Homo sapiens: one gene and its partners. The protein of the gene in region 2 purifies or fractionates together with the protein of the main gene of each other region. This does not show direct contact. Each region holds a gene or a part of one and is shown on either strand. Other genes may lie near its edges. The genes, in order: ATP1A3, LRRN2, LARGE2, DNAJC18, TRIM13 and ATF6.

The links.
Region 1: the proteins of LRRN2 (region 2) and ATP1A3 purify together in Homo sapiens (affinity purification with mass spectrometry; 2 studies listed by BioGRID and IntAct, with this or other methods). This does not show direct contact.
Region 3: the proteins of LRRN2 (region 2) and LARGE2 purify together in Homo sapiens (affinity purification with mass spectrometry; one large-scale study listed by BioGRID and IntAct). This does not show direct contact.
Region 4: the proteins of LRRN2 (region 2) and DNAJC18 purify together in Homo sapiens (affinity purification with mass spectrometry; one large-scale study listed by BioGRID and IntAct). This does not show direct contact.
Region 5: the proteins of LRRN2 (region 2) and TRIM13 purify together in Homo sapiens (affinity purification with mass spectrometry; 2 studies listed by BioGRID and IntAct, with this or other methods). This does not show direct contact.
Region 6: the proteins of LRRN2 (region 2) and ATF6 purify together in Homo sapiens (affinity purification with mass spectrometry; one large-scale study listed by BioGRID and IntAct). This does not show direct contact.

The regions. Positions count from the first base shown.
Region 1 is NC_000019.10:41,986,685-41,991,620, reverse strand, and holds part of ATP1A3 (sodium/potassium-transporting ATPase subunit alpha-3), read left to right. Parts: intron 1-3,019; coding exon of another isoform or gene 3,020-3,058; coding exon 3,059-3,145; intron 3,146-3,243; coding exon 3,244-3,303; intron 3,304-3,481; coding exon 3,482-3,685; intron 3,686-4,936. UniProt on the Homo sapiens protein: This is the catalytic component of the active enzyme, which catalyzes the hydrolysis of ATP coupled with the exchange of sodium and potassium ions across the plasma membrane.
Region 2 is NC_000001.11:204,682,294-204,687,784, reverse strand, and holds the start of LRRN2 (leucine-rich repeat neuronal protein 2 precursor), read left to right. Parts: upstream 1-2,046; 5' UTR 2,047-2,465; intron 2,466-4,787; exon of another isoform or gene 4,788-4,915; intron 4,916-5,491.
Region 3 is NC_000011.10:45,924,725-45,930,101, forward strand, and holds the end of LARGE2 (xylosyl- and glucuronyltransferase LARGE2), read left to right. Parts: intron 1-60; coding exon 61-165; intron 166-1,314; coding exon 1,315-1,427; intron 1,428-1,497; coding exon 1,498-1,623; intron 1,624-1,717; coding exon 1,718-1,873; intron 1,874-1,986; coding exon 1,987-2,147; intron 2,148-2,590; coding exon 2,591-2,869; intron 2,870-3,024; coding exon of another isoform or gene 3,025-3,195; coding exon 3,196-3,345; intron 3,346-3,452; coding exon 3,453-3,648; intron 3,649-3,807; coding exon of another isoform or gene 3,808-3,905; coding exon 3,906-4,121; coding exon of another isoform or gene 4,122-4,200; 3' UTR 4,201-4,372; downstream 4,373-5,377. UniProt on the Homo sapiens protein: Bifunctional glycosyltransferase with both alpha-1,3-xylosyltransferase and beta-1,3-glucuronyltransferase activities involved in the maturation of alpha-dystroglycan (DAG1) by glycosylation leading to DAG1 binding to laminin G-like domain-containing extracellular proteins with high affinity and in a phosphorylated-O-mannosyl trisaccharide dependent manner.
Region 4 is NC_000005.10:139,432,275-139,437,210, reverse strand, and holds part of DNAJC18 (dnaJ homolog subfamily C member 18), read left to right. Parts: intron 1-4,936.
Region 5 is NC_000013.11:49,999,526-50,004,461, forward strand, and holds part of TRIM13 (E3 ubiquitin-protein ligase TRIM13), read left to right. Parts: intron 1-1,469; exon of another isoform or gene 1,470-1,580; coding exon of another isoform or gene 1,581-1,583; intron 1,584-4,936. UniProt on the Homo sapiens protein: Endoplasmic reticulum (ER) membrane anchored E3 ligase involved in the retrotranslocation and turnover of membrane and secretory proteins from the ER through a set of processes named ER-associated degradation (ERAD).
Region 6 is NC_000001.11:161,771,846-161,776,781, forward strand, and holds part of ATF6 (cyclic AMP-dependent transcription factor ATF-6 alpha), read left to right. Parts: exon of another isoform or gene 1-770; intron 771-4,936.

The DNA of each region.
Region 1 (4,936 bases), on a different chromosome or scaffold from region 2:
CCCTCTCTCTCTCCTGACCCCCATCTCACCCCTCTCCTGGCCTCCTGCACAGGACTTGACCCCAGGCCTTTGTAGCTCCACATCTCTCCATCTCTCCATGTCTCTCCATCCTGGGTCTACCCCATCGGGCAAAGCTGAGACCACCCCGGCACTGTAGGGCAGTAGGAAAGATGGTCTCCCCGTCCCCCAAGCCTCTGTGCCTCCGCATCTGAGACGCAGTGCTGCTGCAGGGCTGGCGTGGGGCCAAGCCTCCCTCCCACCCCCTGCACCCCTTCTTGAGGCTCCCAGATCTCCAGGCTGCTGCCCCTCCCTGCACACCCCCACCCTCCGACTCAGCCTCTGGGTCTGGGGGCAGACAGCAGGCAGCTCAGGCCCTCTACAAGGTCACGAGGAGATTAGCGCTGAGCCGCGCTGAGCCTCCGATCCCAGCTTGGCCCTGGGCCTGCGGGACCTGTCAGCGGCCCCTGCAGCACCCAGCCTCGCCCCACCCCTCCCACCAGCCTCGGACACTGCCCTCCCCATCCGCCCAGGCTCCCAAACTGGAACTTCAGGGACTCACACCATGCGCAGTTCAAGCCAGGACTAGGGCTTCTGCCTCTAACTCTCCTGCTCTGTCCTCCAGGAACCTGGCCATGCCCAGCCTCTGTTAAGGACGCTCCATGGGCCCAACACATGGAAGATCCCAGAGAGAGGCAGAGACAGAGATAGAGGAAGGTACCAGAGGGAGACAGTGAGAGAGACAGAGACAGAGAGACATAGACAGAGATAGAGAGGCAGATTCCAGAGACAGAGAGAGGAGATCTCAGAGAGACAGAAATAGAGAATAAGATCCCAGAGAGAAAGTGAGAGAAAGAGACAGAGAGAGAGAGGAAGATCCCAGAGACAGACAGCGAAAGAGAGAGGAAGATCCTACAAAAAGAGACAGATATATATATATATATATATGGACAGAGAGAGAGAGAAAGAGAGAGAGAGATTGAGGAGAGCCCAGAGAGAGACAGTGGGAGAAAGAGAGACAGAGAGGAAAATTCCAGGATGAGGTAGTAAGAGAGAGAAAGAGAATGAGAGATATATGGGGAAGGAGGGGGACGGAAGATTTGAGAGAGACAGAGAGAGGGAGAGAGAGAAAGAGAATGAGAGATATATGGGGAAGGAGGGGGACGGAAGATTTGAGAGAGACAGAGAGAGGGAGAGAGAGAAAGAGAATGAGAGATATATGGGGAAGGAGGGGGACGGAAGATTTGAGAGAGACAGAGAGAGGGAGAGAGAGAGAGAGAAAGAGAAAGAGAGGAGATCTTAGTGATAGTGAGAGAGAAAGAGAGATTCAGAGATAGAGAGGAGATCCCAGAGAGAGAGAGTGGGAGAGAGACAGAGATAGGCAGATCCCAGAGAGAGATATTAGAGAGACAGAGAGAGAGACAGAGAGAGGTTGAAACAGGAAAAGAGACAGGTAGGGAGAGATGTGAGCATCCCAGAGGAGACAGCTTGAGAGATGAAGATAGAGACACAATGACAGAGAGAGACAGACCGAAAGACGGAAAAAGACAGAGACAGAAAGTACTGATCCTTGAGACGCCAACTCAGAGGGAAATAAGAACCCAGAGAGACAGAAACTCAGCCAGACCTGGGGAGACACAGCCAAGAGATGGAGACAGACATCATGCAAGGCAGAGAGACAAAGAACCAGAGATCAGAGAGAGACAAAATCATAGAAAGACACATGCAGAGAGACCCAGAGACTGGGATCAGGATAGAGAATGACAGAGACAACATAAAGAGATCAGAGCGATAGAGAGAGAGAGAGAGCTATCAAGAGAGAGAAACAGCCTTGCAAAGACAGAGATACAGAGATGGAGAGATAAAGAGACAGGAGACAGAGAGATGATGAAACAAAGCAATAAGACCAAGAGCCAAAAACAGACCTGGAGATACACATCAAGGGAGACAGACAGAGGAGAAAGAGATGGAGATACACGTGGAGACATAGAAAAGACAGATACGAGGCCGGGCACGGTGGCTCACGCCTGTAATCCCAGCACTTTGGGAGGCCGAGACGGGCGGATCACGAGGTCAGGAGATTGCGACCATCCTGGCTAACACAGTGAAACCCTGTCTCTACTAAAAATACAAAAAAATGAGCCGGGCGTAGTGGCGGGCGCCTGTAGTCCCAGCTACTCGGGAGGCTGAGGCAGGAGAATGGCGTGAACCTGGGAGGCGGAGCTTGCAGTGAGCTGAGATCATGCCACTGCACTCCAGCCTAGGCGACTAAGCGAGACTCCGTCTCAAAAAAAAAAAAAAAAAAAAGACAGATATGTAGGAAGGTTGGACAGGGCCAGGGAGAGGGAAGAAGAGACAGAAGCAGAGTTAAAATGTCACATAGAGGTGGGGCACGGTGGCTTATTCCTATAATCCCAACAGTTTGGGAGGCTAAAGCAGGAGGATCGCTTGAGTCCAGGAGTTAGAGACCAGCCTGGGCAGTGTAGTGAGACCCCATTTCTAGAAAAAAATTAAAAATTAGCCGGGCGTGGTGGCACACACCTGTAGTCCCAGCTACACAGGAGGCGGAGGCGGGAGGATCACCTGAGCCTCAGAAGTCGAGGCTGCAGTGAGCTGTGATTGCTGCACTCCAGCCTGGGCATCAGAGTGAGACATTGTTTCAAAAAACGAAAACAAAGTCACATAGACACAGAACACAAAAGGGGAGAGCCCCGCAAAGATGGGCACAGAAACAGAGAGAGACTGAAACACAGGCAGAAGCCAGACAGGGACCTTCGGGGACAGAGACTCAGAGACACACAGAACCAGAGACAGGGAAGCTGATTGCAGCAGATGAGACTCACGAGGCCTGAGAGTCACCAGAGGCAGAAGGGAGGTGAAGTCACCCAGAGGCTCCGGGAGACACAGGGAGACCCCGAGAGGCAGACAGAGACCCCCCACCCAGAGATGCAGGGGCACCGGCCAGGAGGATAGCTGGGGCATGGAGGGCCGGTGTCCTCCTGGAACCCCTTCTCGCCCGCAGTCTGGTGGCTCTGACAGCTATCGTATCGCCACCTCGCAGGACAAGAAAGATGACAAGGACTCACCCAAGAAGAACAAGGGCAAGGAGCGCCGGGACCTGGATGACCTCAAGAAGGAGGTGGCTATGGTAAGCCTCGCCCTCTGCCCGCACACCCTCCCAGAGAACCTCGCCAGTTCTTGGCTGGCCTAGGCACTCACCGTCTCCCCCAAACTCCTGTTCCTCAGACAGAGCACAAGATGTCAGTGGAAGAGGTCTGCCGGAAATACAACACAGACTGTGTGCAGGTGTGGCCAGGCTGTGGGCTGGGACCCTGGGAACTAGGGAGGAGGAGCTGGGGGCTAGGACCCCTGGGTCTGAGGGAGGAGGGGCTGTGGCTGGTGTCTTAAGTTCTGGGGGTCTGGTGAAGGCCTGGGGTGCCAGGGTTGCCCAGGGAGGGTTCTGTGTGAGTCCTCTGTCCCTCAGGGTTTGACCCACAGCAAAGCCCAGGAGATCCTGGCCCGGGATGGGCCTAACGCACTCACGCCACCGCCTACCACCCCAGAGTGGGTCAAGTTTTGCCGGCAGCTCTTCGGGGGCTTCTCCATCCTGCTGTGGATCGGGGCTATCCTCTGCTTCCTGGCCTACGGTATCCAGGCGGGCACCGAGGACGACCCCTCTGGTGACAACGTGAGTGCCTGGACCCTGCCCTGTGCAAGGCTCTGCACATTTATTTACGGACACCGCACCCCAACTTCTTCCCATCCCTCTAAGCTTTTCACAGCCCACTCTCCCCCTTTTTCCCATCTAACTCACAATCACCCAGCAAGAGAACCAGATCAAATACAAGGCAAACTGAGGCTCAGAAAAGCCAGGCTACTTGTCCAAGGCCCCACAGCAGGATGTGTGAGCCGGGGCTCTGTCCCAAGGCTGTGTGACCTCAGCGGCCTTGAGAACAGACACCAGCAGGTGGTCATGGCTTGACAGATACCCAGAGTGAGTGTCACATAGAGACCCAGGCACACCCCGCTGCTGATACATCAGGGCCCATCCCCATAACACAGGGACACATTCGAGATGCAGCCTCAGATCCCATGCGCATAACACAGACCACACACCAGCCACACAGAGCTGCTCACCTGGGTAGGCGTGTGTGCACACACACGCATGTGCACGGAGGGTCAACGCAGATGCCACACCAGGATGTGGTTTCAAACATGGCCACCTAATTCAGAAACACAGACACAGACTCAGATATACACTGACAGAGAAACTCACACACACACTGACACGCACACACACACACAGCAATGCAGGCATAACCTGGTGACAGAGAGACATGAGAGTCAGGCACAGAGAGTGTCCTCAGATGTTCAAATCTAAACAGTCTTAGACATAAGCTCTCACAGAGAGGCAGAGCTGGAGACACAGAGACAGAGATCCACACACAGAGAACCAAAGAAGCTGCCTTGTAGAATGTAAAGTCAGGCATGCAGCCAGTCAGACAGACACATGGACAGACAGCCGCATCCCAGACTCAACATGTGCAGGAGGACAGACACACACACAAAACAGATGGACAAGTCGGGCATGGTGGCTCACGCCTGTCATCCCAGCACCTTGGGAGGCCAAGGCAGGAGGGTAACTTGAGACCAGGAGTTCCAGTAGCCTGAGTAACATACCCAGACAGACCCAGCCTCTAAAAAAACACAAAACATAGCCGGGCCTGGTGGCGCACACCTGTAGTCCTAGCTACTCCGGAGGCTGAGGAGGGAGGATTGCTTGAATCTGGGAGGTTGAGGCTACAGTGAACTGAGATTGTGCCACTGTACTCCATCCTAGGCAGCAGAGCGAGACCCTGTCTCAAAAAAAAAAAAAAAAAAAAATGCCAGGAAAGATGGCTCACACCTGTAATCCCAGCACTTTGGGAGGCCAAGGTGA
Region 2 (5,491 bases):
AGACACTTGAGTATGCATAGTTATTGGGAAGCTGGGGTGCTGACATGAGTGCTCTCTCCGGTCGTGCAGTTGGTAAAGGACTCCTAAAATGTCCTCCTTTTCACCATCATCCTGTCTACATTGACATTGGCCCTTAGACTGGAAAGGTGGCTCCAGTGACTCGACAAGGGACTCAAATGCTCAGGCTAAAAGCTTGGAGTCAAGTTTTGACCCCTTTCAATCAGTCAGTCTTACAGTTCTGCCAAGTCTTCTTTACAAAGGCCCATGCATTTACTCTATTCTCACTGCTCCCCTCCTCCTAGATTCCTGCAACAGCTACCTCAATAGTCTCCCATCCTCCTGCCTCTTTCATCCCAAATCACCTGAGGATGGGTCCACAGATAAACTGCTGAGCCTGGCAATTCGGGCCCTTCATCAGCTGCTCCCACCCTGTATACTCAATGTGGCATTGTCGCACTGTGAAAATGAGGTCTCACATTCTGCCTACAGATTTTGGGCTACTGCCTTAAACGATCTGGGCCTCCATCCCCCGGTCTGTTAAAAGGGGATATTAGTCAACTCAGAGTCTAAGATGACAGAGATGAGAAAAGGCTGGCATCTAATAGTAGCTCTATAATTTTCCTCCCTTGCCCCCTACCCTCCAGACAACCCATTCTACTCTGCTTGTCTCCACTTTCCTGCCTTTGCTGGTCCCCATATTCTCTTCCAGTTCAAATCCTATCCCTCCAACTAGGCTCAGTTGGAGACTCAGCTCCTCCGTTAAACCTTTTGTGAATAATGCTAGTCCATTAAGGTGGTTTCTTTTTGTATTTCTATGGCACTTCCATCGTCTTGAAATATTAAAATTGGTTTCATATAGTTCCAACCTGTCACTCTGAGCTCCTTGAGGCCATTATGCTCCGTAGCAGGGGTGGAGAGTGGGAACATGGGGGTGGTTTAGTGGGAACTTAATATGTGCTCATTCAATATATGAAGGTGAGAATCCCCTCTGTGCATACAGAACTCAGACCTTCAAGCCAACTTCACAAAAGCCACCAGGCATGGCAGTCACCACTGGCTGTACCCTTGGAAAAGACAGGGCCAGAAGCTCAAGCACTGGATGACGGCAGGCAGCCCAGGGAAGCCACTCCTCACAGGACTCCACACCTTGGCCTCCACCTCATCCATTCCCCTGTTGTTGGTTCTGCAGGCTCTGGTCCAGACCCATCAGTAGGGTGTGGCCTGCCATGGAGCCGAGTTTGTGATGTCTGTTCTGAGTGGTCCAGGCTGAAGTCCCCACCAAGGCATGGGTGTTGGGCATTGGGCCTTTGCCCTCCTCTAGTGGCAGTCACCCAGCTTTTCTAAGCCACCAGGCAGCAGCCTAGCACCCACCTTTGGCACCTTCTTACTTTCCTCCCCCAGTCTTCATGATGTCCAGCTGGCAGAGTGGGGAACCCTGAAGCCAAACCCCTAACTGGGCCTGCCAGTTCCTGACTGAAATTGACCTCCTTCATTGAGAGCCAGGACGGAATCTTCCAGAATGCTAGAGCTGCACGGCTCAGGATGCAATGCTGGAAAAGCATGACAACTAAAGGGGTCTTCCACTCCATTCTTTAGGGTGAGAGGTGCCTGGGCCCAGTGACAAATTCTCACCCACCCCACTACATTCCTTAGTCCACTGTTAACTTCGGGAGGGTAGCACCATGCAAAGCAAAAATGTGATCTTAGGTGCATGCTGTGACTGTGAGCTGCACCTGTCCTCACAAAGCTGCTGAATTCCCCATTCGTCTCCTGGCCTTTGCAAGAGGGTCCGAGGCAGTATGAGAGAAGCCAACCCTTCTCTTCCCGGACCCAAGGGCTGTGCCCCTTCTCTCAGCCAAGCCTTGTGTCTCTAGGCACAAGGACAGCTCAAGCGTTAGCGTCTGGCCCCACCCAACTCCTTCCTCCCGGGTGTGTGTGCGTTAGGTAGAGGGGGCCTCTGGCCACTCAGGAGTTAAAATGGCAGCGGGACTGGAGGGGGTTGGCGTGGCATGCAGACTGGGAGGAGGCGACCGGAGTGGGCTGGGGAGGTTGGGAGAGCGGCGGAGAAGCGAGTGAGGAGGGCGAGCGCGAAGCCGGGAAGAGGGGCGCGCGTGGAGGGGGTGCCGGGCGCCGCGAGGGCCTGCTCCGGGCACCTGCGAACGCGCGGCGCTCTCAAGGAGCGCCTGGCTCTCGCCCGCCAGCCTCCGGCCGCGACGCGCCCAGGGCGCGGAGAGGGGGTGGGGACGGATTGGGATTCTGCCATCGCCCTCACCGGCTGGGCCCTGGAGCCGCTCCCAGGATAACTCCACGTTGGGGAGGGCGCCCGCCGAGCCTCCCCGGCCTGTGCAGACGGCGCGCGCGGCGGGAGGGCGCGGACCAGCGTCCCCAGCCCGGCCCCGGGCGGAAGGCGAGCGGAGCGCGGCCGCGCGGGCAGCAGACGGCAGACGGTGCCCGGCGCCCACGGGGTGAGTGTGCAGCTTCGGGGCTGACCTGGGCAGCGCCGCCGCCGCCGGGGAATCGTGGACACCGAGGTCGCTGGCGTGGCCGAGGCGTACGCGGCGGGAGCGGCCGGAGCAGCCGCCTCAGGGCTCCTGGCTCCTGCCCCGGCACCGCAGCTCCGCCTGACCCGGGTGGGGGCCAGAGGAGGGCCGGCCGCTGCCTTCCGCCGAGACGCCTGCGGGGGAGCCGGAGACTTGGGAGAGGGAGGCGGCCGAGGGGCAGAGGGACGGAGGGCTGGAGAATGCCCAGAAGCGGCCAGGGAGAGGGCGCCTGGGCCTTCGCCTGGAGAGGCCAGAACCTCCCCCAAACTGTTGCTGGGTAGAGTGGGGCCCTGGAGATGTGGAGGAGCCGAGAGGTGGCAGTGAGGTTAGGGAGGGCGTGACACGGGCGGACTGGCAGGCTGGAAGCGCTCCAGAGCCTGGGGACTTTCTCCTCCTTGGAGCTCGCGAGTCTGTGCGGAGGGACAAGGTGGCCTTGGGTCTGTCTGAAGTATCTGGAACCAGGAGCTAGGCTCCTCCCGGGCCGGCTGGCTGGGGTCCGACCGCAGCCTGGGATGGGACCTTTGGGGTGGGGGATGGGCCGGCCTGGGGCTCAGCCTGGGGACTCGGTCAGGGGGAAGCGGAAACGGAAGGGTGGCTCTGAGCCCACCGCAGGACCCAGGAGACAGGATGGGCTGGCCAGCCACAGGTGGGCCGTCTGTCCTGCTGGCAAAGGGTGGCGCAGGCTCTGGCTGCCCAGCCGGCGAGGAGCCGCGGGGTGAGGGAACTGAGCTCCATCTGGGGCCGAGCGGAGAAGCTAAAGAGGTGCAGGAGACCCGGAACCTGGGGAGGGGCCCCGGGGGTAGCACTGTGCTCCCTACCCTTCCTCCCCCACCCAAACGAACAGGAAGGAAAATGTCAGCTGGGCTTTGTGCTCTGTTCCTCAGGCTGCCGCAGCTCCCATCTGTTGGAGCCAACGCAGCTTCTAACTGGGCGACTGGCAGGGTTGGAGGGGGTGGGCTGGGCACAGCGCTCAGTTGCCAGAGATGGACTGACAGGCCCTCTGCTTGAGAACTCCAGGACCTAGGGTGGTGAGGAGAACAGCCTCCCTAGGTCAGGGCAGTAGAGGTGACTCCCTGCCAGTTTGGTCACTGTCATAGGGGAAGATGTAGGTCTCCCCATGCACCCAGGCCGATGGCAGGCTCCGTGCCCCCCTTTCCCGCCAGTCTAGGATGGGCTCTGGCCCAGCGTTTTGTCCCTGAATAAGAAGGCCAGGAGCTCCTCCCATTGCCCACTGCTTCTTAAAGATCCCTTCAAAAAAGAGCACTGGGCATGGAGGGTAGAGGTGGGCTCTGCACTGGGCACTGGAGCCCCCTTGCCTTTGGGCCCTGTGGCTACCAGAAAAAGCCACATGTGGGTGGCCTGACCCACTTTCCTGGCCAGGTGCTGTTGTGGCGAAACGATGGAAACAGAAGGGCAGAGCTAGGGATCTGAGCCTCCTAGGCCTTCTTCCTTCCCCTGTGCTGACTCAGGCTTCTCCTTCTTGCGGAGGGCTCTCTCTGGTCCTGGGATGGGTCCTCATTATTTGCAAAGCATGGAACTAAAGGCCTCAGTGCCTGGGAGATTGAGGTCTGCCCAGGGTCTGGCACCTAGGAACACCCCCAAATCCACACCCTCTCCCTAATGCAGTCTCCTCCCGGGGAAACACCGAGTGGCAGTAAGATCTCAGAGATCTGCTAATTCCATCCAGGCTAGTACAGCAGGTTCCCTCTCTAATTCAACACAGTTCTTCCTCACTTCCCATCCTATTTTCCCTGTGCCTCCCCTCTTCCTCCTCCCCCTCATCCTCCTCTCCTTCCTTCACTCTTCACTTTCCTCCTCTAACACTCTTCACTTCCCTTTTCCCCCTCACACTGCTCTTCCTCTTCTCTCACCCTCCTCATTCTTCCCCAGATATCTCCCTTTCTTCCCAGGCTCTGTCTCCACTTTGCCCTGCTTCTCCTGTAAACTGCAGCTTAAACCGTAAGCCAGGCGTGCACGCACTCCTGCTCATCCTGCCAGTGGGAGCACATGCACTGTTGACTTTGCTGCATCCCTTTTGCAGAGGAGCCTGGGCTGGTGGGCCTGGCAGCTGCATTTGCCTGGCCCTGGTGTCCCTTGAACCCTGTCATTTACTCACCTCCCCCTTCTACTCCCCACACCCTTATGTCGTTTATTTGAAAGGAAAAGGAAACTCCATGGCTTTTAAAAAAATGTATTCATTCAACAACTGTTTCTTGAGTGCCTACTGTGTGCCTCTCATGATTTTAGAAGCTGAAGATACAGCGGTAAACAAACCTCCATGTCTCAAGCTGACCACACTTGTATCTGGACTTGCCAGCTGATTAGCTCTGTTCCCACCAGGCTCGTTCAAAGACCCACAGCTTGAGGGGGCAGAGGTGAGGAACATGAACAATGCTAGTGAATTATCACACTGAGTGACCTCTAACATGCCAGGTACCGCTTAAGTCATCCTGTCCTTAGGATACTTTTCTGACCTGAAAGGATGGACCAGGTCACATCTCACCATTTATCTGGCAGCCCAGGGCAAGTAGAAGGCTGGTGCTTCAGACAGAGAAGGGGGAAGGAATCAAATTTATTATTGAATACCTATTATGCACCAGTCTATGTGAGGAACATTACAAAAGTTATTCTGTTCAGTCGTGCTGACAACCTTCTAATGTCTGCATTACCATCCCCTGTTTCCTAGCCAAGGAAATTGAGGCCTGGAGAGGAGAAACCACTTGCTCCGGGTCATATAGATCTCCATTTTGAAATCACTTGTATCTGCAGTTGATTTGGCCCTATGATATCTGTGACATCTGGTAACTTGTACACTTATACTAAGGCTTACATTCTAACCTAACTTTTCATGGGGCCTTATCTCCCAGTTAGACTATTAATATGTATAAGGATTTGCTGAACGGTTGTGTGAATAAGCTTTCTTAAGTGATCAAGGAAGGCTTCCTGAAGGA
Region 3 (5,377 bases), on a different chromosome or scaffold from region 2:
AGCCCTGAGCCCAGGTCCTGTGGCAGCTTCAGACAGCTCCCTTATGCCCTCCCCTCCCAGACACGCAGGCGATCGGTCTTGTGGAGAACCAGAGTGACTGGTACCTGGGCAACCTCTGGAAGAACCACAGGCCCTGGCCTGCCTTGGGCCGGGGATTTAACACAGGTGGGGACAGTGGTGAGGGGAGGCAGGCGGGGTGGTCTGCTGGTCCTTGGGCCCCTGGGGCTGGGTGGGGCAAAGAATGCTAGGAAGTCCCCCAGGAAGAACATTGCTGTGAAAAGAACCCTGGATGAAGAGACAGACAGCAGTTCCAACAGTCCTGTGTGTGCTGGATGACTTTGGCCAGCTCTCGTGCTCCCTCTGAGCCTCAGTTTTCTCATCCATTAAATGGGGGATAATTTTAACAGCCCTGGGATCACCAAGTGTGAGAAGGCCATGGATGTGCTCTGTAAGCTGGACAGCGCCTCCTCTTCACCCCCGAGGATTGACTATTGACAAAAGTAGTCTACGAGCAAGCTGGGTGCAATGGCTCAGGCTTGTAATTCCAGCACTTTGGGAGGCTAAGGTGGGAGAATCGCTTGAGCCCAGGAGTTCGAGAACAGCCTTGGCAACATAGTGAGACCCTTGTCTCTACAAACATTAAAAAATTGACCAGTCGCAGTGGCTCACACCTGTAATCCCAGCACTTTGGGAGGCTGAGGCAGGCAGATTACTTGAGGTCAGGAGTTCGAGACCAACCTGGCCAACATGGTAAAACCCCTTCTACACTAAAAATACAAAAATTAGCCAGGGGTGGTATCACGTACCTGTAATCCCAGCTACTTGGGAGGCTGAGGAGGGAGAATCACTTGAACCCAGGAAGCAGAGGTTGCAGTGAGCCGAGTTCACACCACTGTACTCCAGCCTTGGCAATAGAGTGAGACTCTATCTCATACATAAATAAGTAAATAAATAAAAAATAAGTAAATAAATAAAAAGGATAGGTGTGGTGGCATGCCTGCAGTCCCAGCTACTCGGTGGGGGTTGTGGTGGGGTGCTGAGGTGGGAGGTTTGCTTGAGCCTGGGAAGTCGAGGCTGCAGTGAGTCATGATTGTGCCACTGCACCACTCCAGCCTGGGTGACAAAGCAAGACCCTGTCTCTAAAAAACAAAACAAAACAAAACAAACAACAACAACAAAAAACAAGTAGTCCATGATCATGTCTGAACAGTCAGAAAATACCAATGTCAAAAAACAAAGGACACCTTCATGACCCCCATGTCCCCCAGGAGCTGGTCGTCCCAGGTGGGCATGACAGCATCTCTTCATTGGCAGGTGTGATCCTGCTGCGGCTGGACCGGCTCCGGCAGGCTGGCTGGGAGCAGATGTGGAGGCTGACAGCCAGGCGGGAGCTCCTTAGCCTGCCTGCCACCTCACTGGCTGACCAGGTCTGAGGAAGCCTTGCCGGGTGGGGTGTGGCAGGCTGGGGGCTGGGATGTGATGGGTGTCTCTGCTCAGGACATCTTCAACGCTGTGATCAAGGAGCACCCGGGGCTAGTGCAGCGTCTGCCTTGTGTCTGGAATGTGCAGCTGTCAGATCACACACTGGCCGAGCGCTGCTACTCTGAGGCGTCTGACCTCAAGGTGAGTGGGACAAGAGGCTGTGTGGTGGTGGGGGGCCATGGATGGAGACTTCTGCTCCCTGCTCCCATGGCCCCAACACCCTCCTGGGTCCCAGGTGATCCACTGGAACTCACCAAAGAAGCTTCGGGTGAAGAACAAGCATGTGGAATTCTTCCGCAATTTCTACCTGACCTTCCTGGAGTACGATGGGAACCTGCTGCGGAGAGAGCTCTTTGTGTGCCCCAGCCAGCCCCCACCTGGTGCTGAGCAGGTGAGAAGGAGTCACCTTCCCCTGCCCCTCTCTGCTTTGGTGGGACCCAGCCTTGTCTGGGGGATGTGTTGTTCTGCCCTATCCCCGGTCCTTGTCACCCCTTGCCCCCTCAGTTGCAGCAGGCCCTGGCACAACTGGACGAGGAAGACCCCTGCTTTGAGTTCCGGCAGCAGCAGCTCACTGTGCACCGTGTGCATGTCACTTTCCTGCCCCATGAACCGCCACCCCCCCGGCCTCACGATGTCACCCTTGTGGCCCAGCTGTCCATGGACCGGTGAGGGTGCAGAGGGCAGCCCAGGGGGTATGGCATGGGCTGGGGTTGGACACTTCTGAGAGGAGGTTCCATCTGGCAGCCTGATGCTGTGGTAGTGAGCTACCTGTCCCTCAGGGAGTTCCAGAAGTTGGAGACATTGGATATGGTGGAAAGAGCTTGGGCTCTGGAGTCATTCAGATGCCCGGAGCTGCCCCTCGGTCGCTGTGGGACCATGAGCAAGTCTTCATATCTCTGGCCCCTAGTTTTCTCTCTCAAATGAGAAAGTACCCACCTGGTGGGGGTAGTTGTGAAGATTCAATCAGACTGGCTCTAAAAGTATTTGAAGGGTGCTCAGTAAGTCACTTGAGGAGGTGGCAGCAGCAGCTAACTGGGGAGGTTTGCCAGGCCTCCCTGAGCTCCTGTGCAAGAGGGGCAGAGCTGTGCTGACCTCCCTCTCCCCATAGGCTGCAGATGTTGGAAGCCCTGTGCAGGCACTGGCCTGGCCCCATGAGCCTGGCCTTGTACCTGACAGACGCAGAAGCTCAGCAGTTCCTGCATTTCGTCGAGGCCTCACCAGTGCTTGCTGCCCGGCAGGACGTGGCCTACCATGTGGTGTACCGTGAGGGGCCCCTATACCCCGTCAACCAGCTTCGCAACGTGGCCTTGGCCCAGGCCCTCACGCCTTACGTCTTCCTCAGTGACATTGACTTCCTGCCTGCCTATTCTCTCTACGACTACCTCAGGTGGGCCTGCAGGCAGAGAGGGGAACAATATATGGGGTGGACGTGGACGGGGCATGCGTGGGACCCCAGGCTTCCATGTCCCTGCTCCTTTCTGGGCCTCAGTGGCCTCTGTCAATTGGGGTTTGTATTAGGCTGTTTCTCTGGGCTGTCAACAGGGAGGCCAGGGCCGGCTTCAACAGCAGCTCCACCTGTGGTTGTGCCCACCCGTCGCATCAGGCAAGATGGCCCATGGTGGTCTAGTCCTGTGGCTAATGCCCTGATGAGTGTCACTGGCCCAGTCCTAGATGCCCCGCTCTTCTCCCCTGCTCATGGGTGCTCCTCCTCAGGGCCTCCATTGAGCAGCTGGGGCTGGGCAGCCGGCGCAAGGCAGCACTGGTGGTGCCGGCATTCGAGACCCTGCGCTACCGCTTCAGCTTCCCCCATTCCAAGGTGGAGCTGTTGGCCTTGCTGGATGCGGGCACTCTCTACACCTTCAGGTAGGAGAGGCTACTTCTCTGCCCACTCCACTCACTTGCCCACACTGGCCCCCACTACCCACGAGCTCCTAGCCTCAGCCTGGCTCCCACCCGACCCTGCTGCACAGGTACCACGAGTGGCCCCGAGGCCACGCACCCACAGACTATGCCCGCTGGCGGGAGGCTCAGGCCCCGTACCGTGTGCAATGGGCGGCCAACTATGAACCCTACGTGGTGGTGCCACGAGACTGTCCCCGCTATGATCCTCGCTTTGTGGGCTTCGGCTGGAACAAAGTGGCCCACATTGTGGAGCTGGATGCCCAGGTGAGGAGGGCACCTTGCTGCCTCCACCTTTGACTCGAGCACCTCCAGGTCCAGGGAACTCACGACACCTGCATGGGGGACCACACCACTAGGCAACACTGTTAGAAATGTCCCCCTTCTGTGGAATTAAAATAATCTGCCCTTTGGCCCTTGCTTTAGCTCTCAGGGGCTACAGGGTAAGCCTGTTCTCTGGAGCTGCACCTTCCCCGCAGGCCAGGCAAGCCAGGCAGCCACTGCTCCTCTGCCCCACCCTGCAGGAATATGAGCTCCTGGTGCTGCCCGAGGCCTTCACCATCCATCTGCCCCACGCTCCAAGCCTGGACATCTCCCGCTTCCGCTCCAGCCCCACCTATCGTGACTGCCTCCAGGCCCTCAAGGACGAATTCCACCAGGACTTGTCCCGCCACCATGGGGCTGCTGCCCTCAAATACCTCCCAGCCCTGCAGCAGCCCCAGAGCCCTGCCCGAGGCTGAGGCTGGGCCGGCGCTGCCCCTCATCTTAGCATTGGGCAGACACCAGGGCAACCTGCCCTCCGCCATCCCTGCTATTTAAATTATTTAAGGTCTCTGGGAAGGGCTGGGGCAGAGCATCTGTGGGGTGGGGTCTTCCCCTTGCTGCTATTGTATGGCTGGGGACTGGTCTCTCTCTGCCCCAGCCAGTTTGGGGCTGGTTCCCCCATCTTGAATTGTTTATCCCTTTTTCATAATTAAAGTTTTAAAACATCTTTTTTGTGTTCCTGGTTTGGGGGAGCAAGGGCACTCTGGGGCTAGGGCGTCAGTGCACAAGGGAGGTGCTACATCCAGCTGGGGTCACAGGAGGGCCTGGGCCCTTAAGGGCAAGCACCCCCCCGCCCCCCACCCCCAGACAGCCAGTCAGGGAGGGCAGAGGCTGGGACTGGAATGTGTCCTGCCCACCCTCCCCTGCCCCAAACCCAACACCATGAGGCTGAGAGGCTTTATTTGGCTTTATTTAGTAAAATGTTAAAATAAATAAATACAAATTGATCAGCTGCTCTGTATCCCCCCCCACCCCCTCAAAACAAAAACCAAACAAACAAAAACAAAAACTTTGAAGCACAAAACTCCAAATACAAGTCTACCAAGACTGAAATCACAAAGGGCATGGACAAGAGACAGGGTTGGGGTCTGGCTGGCTCTTCTCTGCTAGGAGCTGGCTGACCTCTGGCCTGCCCGTCCCATCCCGCCTGACTGCAGCTCACCCTGGGCTGAGGACCCACGGACACCGGAGAGAGGTGAGGGTCCAAAGGCTGCTGGGGAAGGGGTAGGGGGGTGGGGTCCTCAGGGAGGAAGGGCCTTGTGGGAGGGGGCGCCAAGTGGAACTGGAGAGCCCTGCTTCCGTTTAGAGGAGGTATTTTTCAGAGTTCCTACCCCGGCTTTCTGGAGGGCAGCCCCAGCTTCCTGCCCCTCACTTTAGCAAGGGGCCAGAAGACTGCCCAGGGCTGCCCACTCCTGTCTTGGAGAGGAGCTGACTCAGAGGACAGTCTAAGTCAGGGTGAGGATGGGAGTCCTGCTTCCTGCCAGGGGTGCCCGGCAGAGGGACAGGGGCGAGGTTCACACAGAGCAAAGTTGCCTCCACTCAACAGAAGCCACGGGATCTGGAGAACCCAGGCCCTGGAAAATGCACCTGGGCCACCATCCATCTCATTACCCTAAGAGCCTTTTGCCCCTGGGTAAAAAGTCTCCTAAATTCAGCCCTTTAGATAAATAAG
Region 4 (4,936 bases), on a different chromosome or scaffold from region 2:
ATTAGGGTATAACATGAACTGACTACCCTGCTTCTACTTTAAGAGAGGCAGCAGAAACCGACTAGACACAACACACATCTACAGGACATTCTTTCAACAACAACAGAACGATTTTCTTCTTAAGGATACATAGAATATTCTCCAGGATAGACCATATCTTAGGTCATAAAACAAGCCTCAATAAATTTAAAAAGATTGAAATCATACAGTGTATGTTCTCTGAAATCAAAAACAAAGGGAAATTTGAGAAATTCACAAATATGTGGAAATTAAACTACAAGCTCCTAATAAGCAAGCAAGTCACAGAATAAATCACTAGGAAAGCTAGAAAATGCTTTGAGATGAGTGAAAATGAAAACACGACGTACTAAAATGTATAGGATGCAGCTAAAACAGTGCTTAGAAGGAAATTTATAGCTCTAAATGCTTATTTTTTTAAAAAAGACTCCAAATCAGTAACCTAATCTACCTTAAGGAACTAGACAGCCTGGACAATACAGTGAAACCCCCTCTCTTCCAAAAAATATATATATACAAAAATTAGCTTGGTATGATGGCACCAACCTGTAGTCCCAGCTACTTGAGAGGCTGAGGCAGGAGGATTGCTTGAACCCAGTAGGTTGAAGCTACAGTGAGTCATAATCGCACAGCAGAGCAAGACCCTGTCTCTCAAAAAAAAAAAAAAAAAAAAAAAAGAAAGAGGGATATCCCTACCAATCCAAATACTATGAACAATTGTGTGCCAACAAATTAGATAACCTAGATAAAATCAGCAAATGCCTAGAAAGACACAAATTACTGAAACTGACCCAAGAAAAATGGAGGCCAGGCATGGTGGGTCACACCTGTAATCCCAGAGCTTTGGGGGTGCTGAGGCAGGAGGATTGCTTGAGACCAGGAGTTTGAGACCAGCCTGGGCAACACAGCAATACATTATCTCTAAAAAAAGAAAAAAAAAATACTTGGGCATGGTGGCACATGCCTGTGGTCCCAGCTACTTTGGAGACTGAAGCAGGAGAATCACTTGAGCCTAGGAATCTGAGGTTACAGTAAGCTATGGTAGTGCCACTGCATTGCAGCTTCGGTGACAGAGACCTTATTTCCAAAAAAGAAAAAGAAAAAAAAAAGGAAAACCCAAGTAGACCTACAACAAATAAGGTGATTTAATTAACAATCAAAAAAATTCTAGCTGGACATGGTGACTCATGCCTGTAATCCCATTACTTTGGGAGGCTGAGGTGGGAGGATCACTTGAGCCCAGGAGTTCAAGACCAGCCTGGCCAACATGGCGAAACTTCATTAGTACAATAAAAAACAAACAAAAAGACCCCACAAAAATTAGCCGAGCATGGTGGTGCACACCTGCAGTTCCAGCTGCTCAGGAGGCTGAGGTAGGAGGATTGATGGAGCCAGGAAGGGCGAGGCTACAGTGAGCACCACTGCACTCTAGTCTGGGTGACAGAGGGAGACCTTGTCTGAAAAAAAAAAAAAAAAAAAAAAAAAAACTTCCAATGAAGAAAAGTCCAGGCCCAGCTGGCTTCATTCTTTGAGACCAGTATTAACTCTGTAACCAAAACCAGACAAAAATATCATAAGAAGTCTAAATTATCAACCAATATCCCTTATGGATATAGATTTTAAAATATTCAATAAAATACTAGTAAAACAAATACAGCAATGTAAAAAGTATTATATATTTTCACCAAGTGGGATTTATCCCAGTATTGCAGGATTGTTTAACACACACAAGTCAATCAATGTAACATACCATGTTAATAGAATAAAGGACAAAAATCACACGATCATTTCAATAGGTACAGAAAAAGCATTTAACAAAATCCAACACTCTTTTTTTTTTGAGACGGATTCTTGCTCTGTCACCCAGGCTGGAGTGCAATGCCACGATCTCGGCTCACTGCAACCCCTGCCTCCCAGGTTCAAGCGATTCTCTGGCCTCAGCTTCCTGAGTAGCTGTGACTACAGACGCGCACCACCATGCCTAGCTAATTTTTGTATTTTTAGTAGAGACGGGGTTTCACCATGTTGGCCAGGATGGTCTCGTGACCTTGTGATCTGCCCGCCTCGGCCTCCCAAAGTGCTGGGATTACAGGTGTGAGCCACTGCGCCCAGCCCCAACACTCTTTCATAATAAAAACACTTAACTAGGAATAGAAGGGAACTTCCTCGACCTGATAAAGTCCATCTACAGAAATCCACAGTTAACATCATACTTAAAGGTGAACAACTAGGTGTTTTCCCACCAAGATCAGGAACAAGACAAGTATGTCTGTTCACTCTTGCCACTCTGTTCAACATTGTACTAGAGGGTCAAGCCAGGGCATTTAAGCAAGAAAAAGAAATAAAAGCCATCCAAATTGGAAAGAAGAGTAAAACTACATCCACAGATGACATGATCTTGTAAATGGAAAATCCTAATGAATACACACACACACACACACACAAATACTGTTAGAACTAATAAACAAGTTGGACAAAGTTACAGGATATAAGATCAATATACAAAAATTATCATTTTTCTATATACTAGCAATGAACAATAAAAAAATGAAATTAAGAAAATATAGTTGAGGCTGGGTGTGGTGGCTCATGCCTGTAATTCAAAACTTTGGGAGGCTGAGATAGGAGGATCTCTTGAAGCTAGGAGTTCAAGACGAGCCTGAGCGACATAGCGAGGCCCTGTCTCTACTAAAAATAAAAATTTAGCCAGGTGTGGTGGCATGCACCCAAAATCCCAGCTACTCAGAAGGCTGAGGTAGGTGGATCCCTTGAGCCCAGGAGTTCGAGGCTGAGGTGAGCTATGATCACCCTACTGCAATCCAGCCTGGGTGACAAAGCAAGACCCTGTCTCTATATACAAATAAATAAATAAATAGTTTTAAAAAAGAGATACAGTTGGCCTTTGAACAACACAGGTTTGAGTGGCATCAGTTTGAACCATGGATTTTTATATGTCAATTTTAAAAGATAAATACATTGGAAAAATTTTTTAGATTTGCAACAATTTGAAAAAGTGGCTCACATCTGTAATCTCAGCACTTTAGGAGGCCAAGGCAGGAAGAATACTTGGGCTCAGAAGTTTGAGACCAGCCTGGGCAACACGGCAAAACTCCGTCTCTACTAAAAATACAAAACTAGTCAGGCGTGGTGGCGCACACCTGTAATCCCAGCTACTTGGGAGGCTGAGGCGGGAGAATTGTTTGAACCCAGAAGGCAGAGGTTGCAGTGAGCTGTGATTGTGCCATTGCACTCCAGCCTGGGCAACAAGAGCGAAACTCTGTCTCAAATAATAATCATCATCATCACCATCTCACAAACCATGGAGCATGGACATACCAAAAAATTAAGAAAATTATATGAATGCATAAAATATATCTAGATTCTAGTCTATTTTATCATTTACTATCATAAAATATACACAAATCTATTATAAAAAGTGAAAATCTATCAAAACATATGCTCACAAACACTTGAGACTACATGGTACCATTTGCATTTGAGAAAAATGTAAACATACAGGTGCAGTATTAATCACACCTGCATAAAATTAACAGTAGTACTGTACTACTGTAATAATTTTGTAGTTAGCTCCTGTTATTTTGCTGAGCCTCAAGTATTGGGAGTATCTGCTTAAAATGCCACATGATGCTAATCATCTCTTTGTGAGCAGTTTGTCTCTTGAGTAAATTATGTATAGCAGTAAAAAGTGATCTCTTGCAGTTCTCCAGTTTTGTTTTTTTTTTTTTTTGAGATGGAGTTTTGCTCTTGTCGCCCAAGCCGGAGTGCAGTGGCACGATCTTGGCTCACTGCAACCTCCACCTCCCAGGTTCAAGCGATTGTCCTGCCTCAGCCTCCCAAGTAGCTGGGATTACAGGCGCCCACCATCATGCCCAGCTAATTTTTGTATTTTTAGTAGAGATGGGGTTTCACCATGTTAGCCAGGCTGGTCTTAAACTCCTGGCCTTGTGATCCACCTGCACTTAATGCCAGCAGGTAAGAAAACATTGCACTTTTTGCAAAATACCTTTTCATCTCATATTGAAAATGAAGCTTTTATATGGGTGCAGGACTGCTATAAGAAAGGCATACAGTCCATGATGTGATTATTACTTATCGCATGCCTGAGCTCAAGGCTTCCACTCACCTCAGTCTCTCAAAGTGCTGGGATTACAGGTGTGAACCCTGCGGCCAGCCCTACCTCATCAACTTTTTAGTGCAGACAAAAGTGCCCTATTCTGGAAAAGAAATGTCACAAAGGACATTGTACTAGTAAGGATGAGAAGTGAGCATCAGGATATAAGGCAGGAAGGGATAGGCTAACTCTGCTATTTTGTGCAAATGCAGTTCAGTTTATGATGGGGGCTGCCATTATATATAAAGTTGCTAACCCCTGAGCCTTGAATGGAAAAGATGAACACCAGCTGCCAGCCTTTTGGTTGTACAGCAAGAAGGCCTGGGCACTGAGAGCCCTTTTTCTGGACTGGCTCCATTGATATTTTCTTCGTGAAGTCAGGAAGTACTTTGCCATTAAGGGACTGCCTTTAAAAAGTTCTTTTGGATTAACTCAGGGTTATGGTGCATGCCTGTAGTCTCAGCTACTTGGGAGGCTGAGGCAGGAGAATTACTTGAGCCCAGGAGTTGGAGGCTGCAGTGAGCTATGATCGTGCCACTGCACTCCAGCCTGGGTGACAGGGACCCTACCCTGTCTCTAAAAAAAAATAAAGTTCTGTGGCCAGGCGCGGTGGCTCACGCCTGTAATCCCAGCACTTTGGGAGGCCAAGGCAGGTGGATCACAAGGTCAGGAGTTCAAGACCATCCTGGCCAACATGGTGAAACCCCGTCTCTACTAAAAATACAAAAATTAGCTGGGTGTGGTGGCAGGTGCCTATAATCCCAGCTACTCGGGAGTCTGAGGCAG
Region 5 (4,936 bases), on a different chromosome or scaffold from region 2:
TAAATACTATAAAAATCATTTTTAAATTTTTTTCCAAGAGATGGGATTCTCAACTGTGTTCCCCAGGCTGGTCTTGAACTGGGCTCAAGTGATCCTCCTGCTTCAGCCTTCAGAGTAGCTGGGACTACAAGTGTGTGGCACCATTCCCAGATATAAAAATCCTAATTTTATGAAGGATAAAACTGGTGCTTGAACACAGGTACTCAAAAGCAGGTTCTGTGCTTTCCCCTTCACTAGAGAGCCTGTTAAACCTAGTTTGTAAAAACTGCAAAATTTTAGAAGGGATTTTAGAGAGCTTATGATTAAACCCCTTCATTTTATGAATAAGAATACTGAGTTCTTGAGTCCCTTTCTAGATATTGCTAAGGTCTAAGAATTAGAAAACTCAGGCTGTGATGCCTAGTTTGCTGTGTACAACTGATGAGTCTCCACTTCTTGAGTGCTGGGGGTGTCTTAGTTTTTTTGACTCCTAAAATTAGGTGTTTAGATGATTTCTAAGATGCTTTTAAGCCCAGTATTTCTATTCCTACCCCATAACTTTTATTACCATTTATTGCCTATACATATATATTGGTAAGACACAGATGCAGACTAATGTTAACTGCCTTAAACTTTTATATTTTAAACTCGGGTAGGTATGGTAACAAGTGTGTCTTATTGTTTTTTACTAAGTCCTATAAAACTATGGTTTTATTTAAGGTTAGGAACTGCATAGAGAGGTGGACCACTCTAATACATCATTGGTTAGAGTTCATAAAGTGATATAAACCCTTTCTAGAGAGAAACCTAGTCATCTTTTCAACAGCCTTAAAAATGTCCTTACTGTTTGACCCAGAAGTACATTTAAAGGAATTGTCTAAGGAAGTAATTAGAGCTGTGGAGCAAGACTTTTCTCTATAAGGTGTTTACCTAAATGTTACAATACCAAAAAAACACAACAACCCACAAACAAAACAACACAGCAACAAGAACAAACCCATAAATGAGCAATAAGAAAGCATATCCACAACATGGACTGTCATGTTTTTCTAGAACATATCATGATGGGGGAAAGGCATGTAATAAAATAAGGGGATAGGATACAAAATTGTATTATGCTACCAGTTCTGTTAAAATGTGTGCACATGCACGGACACATGGGATTGGAATAAAGACACCAAAATAATAGTAGTGGTGATTTCTTGCTGATGTGATTATGGGTGGCTTTTTCTCTCTATTTTCTGAATTTTCTATAATAAAAACTAATTTTATAATTTAAGAAGACACAAAAGCTAGTTGCATGGATAACTTCGGTTTCAGTATGGTGTCAATATTTTATGGTTTTAATTGTGGTAAGAACATTTAACATGAGACCTATCCTCTACACAGATTTCTAAGTGTACAGTACAGTGGTGTTAACTATAGACATGAGCAGATCTCTGAAACTTACTTTTATGTGTCTTTTATAAACTATTTATCATACCTTCTAGAATAACAGCACCTGGCCGGGTGCAGTGGCTCAGGCCTGTAATCGCAGCACTTTGGGAGGCTGAGGTGGGCGGATCACCTGAGGTCAGGAGCTCGAGACCAGCCTGGCCAAAATGGTAAAACCCTGTCTCTACTAAAAATACAAAAAATTAGCTGGGCATGGTGGCAAGTGCCTGTAATACCAGCTACTTGGGAGGCTAAGGCAGGAGAATCACTTGAACCCAGGAGGCGGAGGTTCCAGTGAGCCAAGATCACACCATTGCACTCCAGCCTGGGTGACAAGAGCAAAACTCTGTCCCAAAAAAAAAAAAAAAAAAGGCAGGAAAGAGTCCAGGCTAAACTATGGTATGGAGAAGAGAATGAAGGAAAAGGAAAAAGTTTTTCTTAGTGCTCTGAACTAGCGAGGTAATGAGTGACCTGGTTTATATTTCTGAGAATTTCACCTTAGTCTGACAACCCTTTGTGAACTTTCTGAGTAAGTGAACTTACCAAGCTAGTGAACATTCTGTACTAGCTCTATTTTGCCTTGTCAGGATCTCTGCTAGAAATATCTTGGAAATTTTAACTACTGTTTATTCTAGGATAATGCCAGAAAAGGTTGGTTACTTACTGTCTTATATGGACACATAGGTAACTTTTATATTGTTTGCAAGAGCCACATAACAATTATTTTAGATACTATATGTAATATATTAATTTTCATTTTTAGAGGTATTGAAATCTGATATTTCTTACTTTGTCCTGTTTTGATCATATATATGCCAGAGGTGCTATGTGTAATACATTAATTTTCATTTTTAGAGATTATATCTGAAATCTGATCTCTGTATCTTACTTTGTCCTGTTTTGATCATATAAGTCACCGGGACAGTCTCTAAAAGAATGAAGAGTAATAACACATTGATACAGAGTATTTAAAATAAAAACTTTGTAAATACTTTTCATATACCTTTTAAAATAGCTATACAAATGAGGAGAGAAACTAGTATGTATAAGTGGTTTGTCAGAGGTTACAGACTGAGAGCCAGACAAGTATGTCAGTCTCCTCACAGGTCTGGATTCAGAGACTTCCAGTAATACATTAAAAAAAAAAATTTATGAAAGATGAAACCATAGGCTGGGCATGATGGCTTATGCTTGTAATCCCAGCACTTTGGGAGGCCAAGGCAGGAAGATACTTGTGGCCAGGAGTTTGAGTCCAGCCTGGCCAACATGGCGAAACCCCGTCTCTATTAAAAACATAAAAATGAGCCTGACGTGGTGGCAGGCACCTGTAATCTCAGCTACTTGGGAGGATGAGGCAGGAGAATTGCTTGAACCCAGGAAGAGGAGGCTGCAGTGAGACGAGATCGCACCATTGCACTCCAGCCTGGGTGACAGAGCAAGACTGTCTCAAAAAAACAAAAACAAAAACAAACCATACTACAGCAGATTAAACTTCTTATGAGGCTTATATTTAGCTAATGTTTTCAAAGTTTTACTTTCTAAACTCAATATGGTTTTTTAATAATTGGCTCTTTAGTTTTTCCACCCATTTTATTGTGAAAATGTTCAAACAGAGAAAACTCAAGAAGAATATTAAAGTATTCTTACATCCTCTACCTAGATTTTAATAGTTGTTAATTAGACCCTTACTTAGTTTCAAGAAAACATTTATTAATGGATCTCTCTTTTTTTTTTTTCTTTTTGAGATGGAGTCTCACTCTGTCATCTAGGCTGGAGTGCAGTGGTGCGATCTTGACTCACTGCAACCTCTGCCGCCTGGGTTCAAGTGATTTTCCTGCCTCAGCCTCCCGAGTAGCTGGGATTACAGGTGTCTGCCACTGCTCCCGGCTAATTTTTGTATTTTTAGTAGAGACAGGGTTTCACCATCTTGGCCAGGCTGATCTTGAACTCCTGACCTCATGATCCACCTGGCTCAGCCTTCCAAAGTGCTGGGATTACATGCATGAGCCAATGCACCTGGCCTAATGGATCTCATACTACAGTATAGTAAGGTGCAGTGGCTCATGCCTGTAGTCCCAGCTACTCTGGAGGCTGAGATGGGAGAATATAGTACACTATTTGAAAATAAGATTAACTAGTGTGCTGAGAGGAAATGATTTTTTTTAATGAGCCATTTTATTATAGGAATTATTTCAAAGTAACATTTGTGGCTGTCTCAGTTCAGTAAAGCTTAGCATAATTTAATGTCTATGAAGTGAGTTTCAATGTTTGCTGTCTAGCCACCTGATAGATACTTAGGTACTGTTTTGAAATTCTTGCCTTCAAAGATGCCTCAAAACAGGATGGAAATTTGAGTTAAATCCTTAAGATAAAAGCGTGATATATTTATTGGCTTTTCTTTTTGTTCCCTAATGGGAAATGAAAAAAAACAAAAAACATGGGTAATATTTTGAACAACTTTATATTGCTAACAGCCAGTGGAATTTAAAACCTTAGTAGGAAAGTTTCTTTTACTAATAGGTTTTATAAGGAGAAAATGAACTTTTGTTTCAGAGTGAATGAATGAGTACTTTCTGCAGTATAATCATTTTGGGTTGATCTCTTAAAAGAATTCTAGAAGGAAGAAGTCCAATACATATATATAAACTCTATTATGACACGTTTACTTTGTAAGTATTGGCTTTTCCATTTTTATTATTTTAGTGGTTGTGTTATGGTTCTCATTTATAGAAGCTGTTGTTGCCAGATACTAATTGAGGTAGGATTCATAAAGCACTTTTTGTAATCCTTCTTCTTTGTGGATAGCTTGACAATTTGTTCAAAAAAATAAACTCATAGTGGTGGTATGCAACTTTGTTAAAAATAAAACTGTAAATCAAAAAGTGAATTTCATTGTATGTAAATTTAAAAGTATGTTAGAAAACATCAATATGGCAGGAGAACAAGTTTGACTTTTTTCCGCAACTAGTGTCTACTACCACCTTTCTGGATACTTTAAAAAGTTGTCAGCTTTTAAAATTGTTGGTATAAAACATTTGGGAAGTTTTTAATTGGTATTTGTGCTTCAAAATTTAAGACTTTTCTAAGTATTCAGAAATATTCAAAGGAAGAGATGAATTTTGGAAAACTTGTTTGCCTTTATGTGCTTAATCTGACTTTAAGTTGAAATTTGAACAGTGAATAATAATTTTGTTTACATAAAGTTTTTTGACTTCTATATTAGGAAAAAAACTAGCTTGAGGCCAAGTGCAGTGGCTCTTGCCTGTATAATCAGCACTTTGGGAGGCTGAGTCCCGACTGCTTGAGCTCAGGAGTTTGAGACCAGCCTGGGCAACATGCTGAAACATCATCTATACAAAAAAAGTACAAAAATTAACTGGGAATGGTAGCATGTACCTGTAGTACCTTACAGCTACTCATGAGGCTGAGGTGGGAGGATCACCTGAGCCTGGGGAGGTCAAAGCTACAGTGAGCTGTGTTAGGGTCACTGCATTCCAGCCTGGGCAACAGAGTGATACTCCCT
Region 6 (4,936 bases), about 43 Mb from region 2:
ATGATTCTTGGATGATTTCAGTATCCTTAGAGAAGATCCTTCAGATACACTGACCTGTCATTTTCTGGACCTCCTCTTTATCACTGATCTTACCTTTTACCCAGTCTCAGCCATTTGCTTTCCTGATCATAAGCCTAAGTCTTGTCACTACCAATAACATCTCACTTTCAAACATCCTGCTCTGACTGCCTTCGCCTGTTTTACCAGCTTACTTCCTTTAGTATTCCAGTTTCAATAGTTGTTCAGTCCTTCTGAGATTTTGCCATGTTTCCAGTGTCTCTCATTCTCTTCAGTTCATCACGTCCCTCTTACCCAGTTTAAATACCATGGACAGTCATTGTCACTATTTCCTTCCTTTCACCTTTCATATTCATGTCTGTCTCTTTTCTGGTAGGTTTCTCTTGGATAAACCTATTAGTTAAATTCAGTTTTGCCCACTTCATGCCTGTCCTAGTATAGCTGAATCAGCTGAAGAAAACACTTCAACTGTCCTGACTGGTCTCAATTTAAGTGTTGCCAGACCAATCATATTTCCCTGGTCCTCTCACTGTCCCATTCTGATGATTGCTTTATAAAGTTTCTTCTATCTTCAAACCTCCAACATCTCTCCCATCCTTTGAATCAGAAGAGAACTTCTACAGTCTCCCACTACCTCATTTACCCACCTATCAACATGTTTGCTTTCTCTTTTGTTGGTGAGAATGAGTGGCTTCTTGCTCCTAGCTAGAGCCAGTCCTTCCATATGTGCTTTAGATTCTTCCTGTTTTGTTCAAGAATATTGCTCAAGCTATTCTTCCTCCTGTTTCCTGCATCAGCATTTCCCCTCTCTACTAGATCATCTCTGTCAGTAAATGAACATGTTGTTGTTTCTCCTAGAAGTACTGTTTCTATATCTAGATAGTACTCTAGCTAGAGTTAAAAAAAAAAAAAACAAAACCAACAAACTCAAAACTCTCTTCAGATGTTACTTCACCTCTTGCTGTTACTGCATTTCTCTACTGTATGTTACAGCAGAATTCCTTTTAAAAAATGTCCACGTTCACTGACTCTAGTTTTTTATTTCTCCTTGTCTCTTGAACCCAGTCCAGTCAGGTGCCACCACTCCACTGAAACTCCTGTTTTTTTTTTTTTTTTTTTTTTGAGACAGAGTCTTGCTCTGTTGCCCAGGCTAGAGTGCAATGGCACGATCTTGGCTCACTGTAACCTCCACCTCCTGGATTCAAGCGATTCCCGCCTCAGCTTCCTGAGTAGCTGAGATTACAGGCGCCTGCCACCATGCCCGGCTACTTTTTGTATTTTTTTTTTTTTGAGACGGAGTCTCTCTCTGTTACCCAGGCTGGAGTGCAGTGGCTCACTCGGCTCACTGCAAGCTCCACCTCCCAGGTTCACGCCATTCTTCTGCCTCAGCCTTCCGAGTAGCTGGGACTACAGGCACCTGCTACCACACCTGGCTAAATTTTTTTTTGTATTTTTAGTAGAGACGGGGTTTCACCGTGTTAGCCGGGATGGTCTTGATCTCCTGACCTCATGATCCGCCTGCCCACCTTGGCCTCCCAAAGTGCTGAGATTACAGGCGTCAGCCACTAATTTTTGTATTTTTAGTAGAGATGGGGTTTCACCATGCTGGCCAGGCTGGTCTCAAACTCCCGACCTCATGTGATCCACCCGCCTCGGCCTTCCAAAGTGCTGGGATTACAGGCGTGAGCCATCATGCCTGGCCTGAAACTGCTGTTTTTAAGGGCACTACTGATTTCCACATTGCTAAACCCAGTGACTGTGTCTGATCTTATTAAACTTATAAGGAGTAAATGAATAAATAAATGGGCAAGGTGGAGGTGAGGTGGGAAAGTTTGTTGAGTACACTAAAAATAGTAACTACCATTATTTACTACTGTTGAGGGAAATCTAATAGTGTGGGACTGGTGCAAAGGATATAGAAATAGGCAATAGGTTTTAGGATACTTTGGGGTAACTGATGCTAACAGTTTCTTATGGATTCTTTTGGAATGTTCTATAAATATACGAGTATATTTATCAACCCACCTTCAGTTATTTTTTTAACCACAGAAAAGTCAAAAGATCAGTACACTGATAAACGTGCGTTTTCCTTATCTAGATTTACCAACTGTTAACATCGTGCCACATTCACTTTATATCTTAATATTACCCACACTTTCCTCCTTTTTCACATCTGAAAGTGGGCTGCAGATAATATGAAACTCCTAAACACTTCACCATGTATTTCCTAAGAATGAGGAAATGTTTATTTTTAAAAAGCATCAATTCATTTTAATATGCTTTATACTTCAAAGCTAACATCACAGGGTTCTTTTTCACCTTCTTGCACCATATGCTTGTATTTCTCTTCTGCCGCTATGAGAATCCTGATTCCCAATAACATCCTTTGTTTTTATAGGCTCACTTCAGCAGCTCTGTTGGAAATAAACTGAAAGAGGGGCAAGGGCAGAAGCAGGGAGACGTTTTGGAGGCTGTTATAGCAATCCCCATGAGTTACAATAGTAGCAGTGGAGTAATGAGAAGTAGTTGGATTATGGATATGTACACACACACACACACACACACACACACACATACACACATATATATACATACATTTTAAAATTTTGAAATAGTTTGAAATCTATAGAAAAGTTTTAAGAACAGTGCAAAGAACTCTTGCATGCCTTTTACACAGACTCCTCAGTTGTTAAATTTTACTGCATTTACTCAATTTCTCTCTTTCTCCCTTTCAAGAGAGAGAGATGTGTTGACCCATCACCTTTAAATACTGTAGTGTATACTCTCTATCCTCCTGCCTCCCAAAAGAAGGCCACTTTCCTCTATTACTACCCTATATTTCTTCCAGTCAGGAGATAAACATTGATACAACAGTGTCATCCAATTCAAAGACACCATTCAAAGTTTGCCATCTGTTTCAATAATGATTTGCTTTTCTAGTCTAGGATTTTACTTGCAAACACTCATTGCTTTTACTTATCATGTCTCATCAGTGTCCTTTAATCTGGAACAGTTCTTTAGTCTTTTCCTGTCTCTAATGTCCTTGACAGTCTTAAAGAGTAGAAGTCTTTTATTCGACAAGATGATCCTAAACCACTAAGGGGTTCCTTGGAAAAATGACCAATTCCAGGGCTGGGAAAGTGCAGGGAAAGTGCAAAATAAGCCTGGAAAATCTTGGGCCAGAAATTCTCAGCAAATGAACATGTTAAAAAGAACAAAGGCCCCAATATGAATGAACTCCCCGTGGTCAAATCTGGGAAAATTTGGCATCAGAATAAAATGAGGGTATACATTATAGTGTAAATACTATGCGATGTTCCTATGCCATCATATCATCCTGTGATATAGTCACATGATCACTTGGTCAAGTTGGTATCTTCTAGGTTTCACCACTGTAAAGCCACTGCTTCCCATTTTGTATTTTATTGCTATTTTGGGGGAGATAATCTGACATAACACCAATATCCTTTTCTTATTAAACCTCTAACCACGAGCCCTAGCCTCATTAATAACCCCAATCTATATCAGTTACCACTCTAATGGTTGCCAAATGGTAACTATCTAACTCTATCATTCTGTCTATCATTCTATCATTGTTGATTGACATTGCACTATAAGAACCAACCTACCTACCTACCTTCCTTCCTTCCTTTGTTCCGTGATGAACTCATTGATTCCTTTTTTATTTGGTGGTTGGTAAACCGCTACTCTCATTTTATTCTGATGCTCAGATTTTCCCAGATTTGACCACTGAGAATTCATTCATATTGGGGCCTTTGTTCTTTTTGACATATTCCTGTCATTTGCTGAGAATTTCTGGCACAGCAAGATTTCCAGGCTTATTTTGCACTTTCCCTGCTGCAAGCCCTGGAATTGGTTATTTCTCCAAGGAACCCCTTAGTGGACTTCTGTTTGGTGGAAGATGGTATTTAGTATCCAAGATCTGGTCACCCAGTATTTTCATTGCTACTGGGATGTCATTGCTTCTAGGACCTCTTAGCAGACAGAACTAGGAAATATATATACATGTGTGTATATATATATATATGTGCATGTGTATATATGTATATATGCATAATACAAACATCTGCATATGTGTGTACATATATATATACTTCCACAGCTATCTGTATGTGTTATATTTTAAATGAGTTTATTTACTAATACTTCTAGTTCTAATCCAACATCTTAGGATTCTTTTAGTCTCCCGACTCTTTCCATGCTCTTAAATCCTTTCTCAGACTGTGAGAAATCTGACTCCAATTATTTTAGTAAAAGGCAAAAGATTCATTCGTTCTGAAGAGAAACCAGAGCATTCTAATTATTTTAGATATATTCAACCATTTGCTCAGTCACCTAACATATTTGTTCAGTATGACCACTCTCCTAACCACTCAGCCTGCGTTTTCCATCTGCTACTCCATTCCCCCTCCCACTGGGCTGGGGCATGCTGGCATCTTTGCTGGGCAATAGTCTCTCCCACACCATCCTATTTCCTTGGATATGAGGCATATTGCTGGAGATGACTGTGCACAAAACCCCATCACCTTTGTTGCCCTGCTTCTTTGGAAGCTGACATCTCTGTGTTGGGAGGGGTAGGGAAGAAAAGGAAGGTTGGGAAGGGAAGGAAGAATGGGAGGAAAGGTAGGAAGCCACATTACAGATATATATTTTGAGAACAGAGCTGACAGAATTTTCTGGTAGATTGATTATGGAGAGTGAGGAAGAGAAGTAAATAATTAAGTAATAATGATCCCAAGGTTTTTGGCCTGAGCAACTGGGAAAATCCAATTGTCATTAACTGAGATGAGGACAAAGCAGTAGGAGGTTTGGTGGGGTTGATGAGGAGCTCATTTTGGATATGTTAGGTTTGACATGCCTTTTAAACATCTAAGAGGAGATGTCATACTCACTGCAC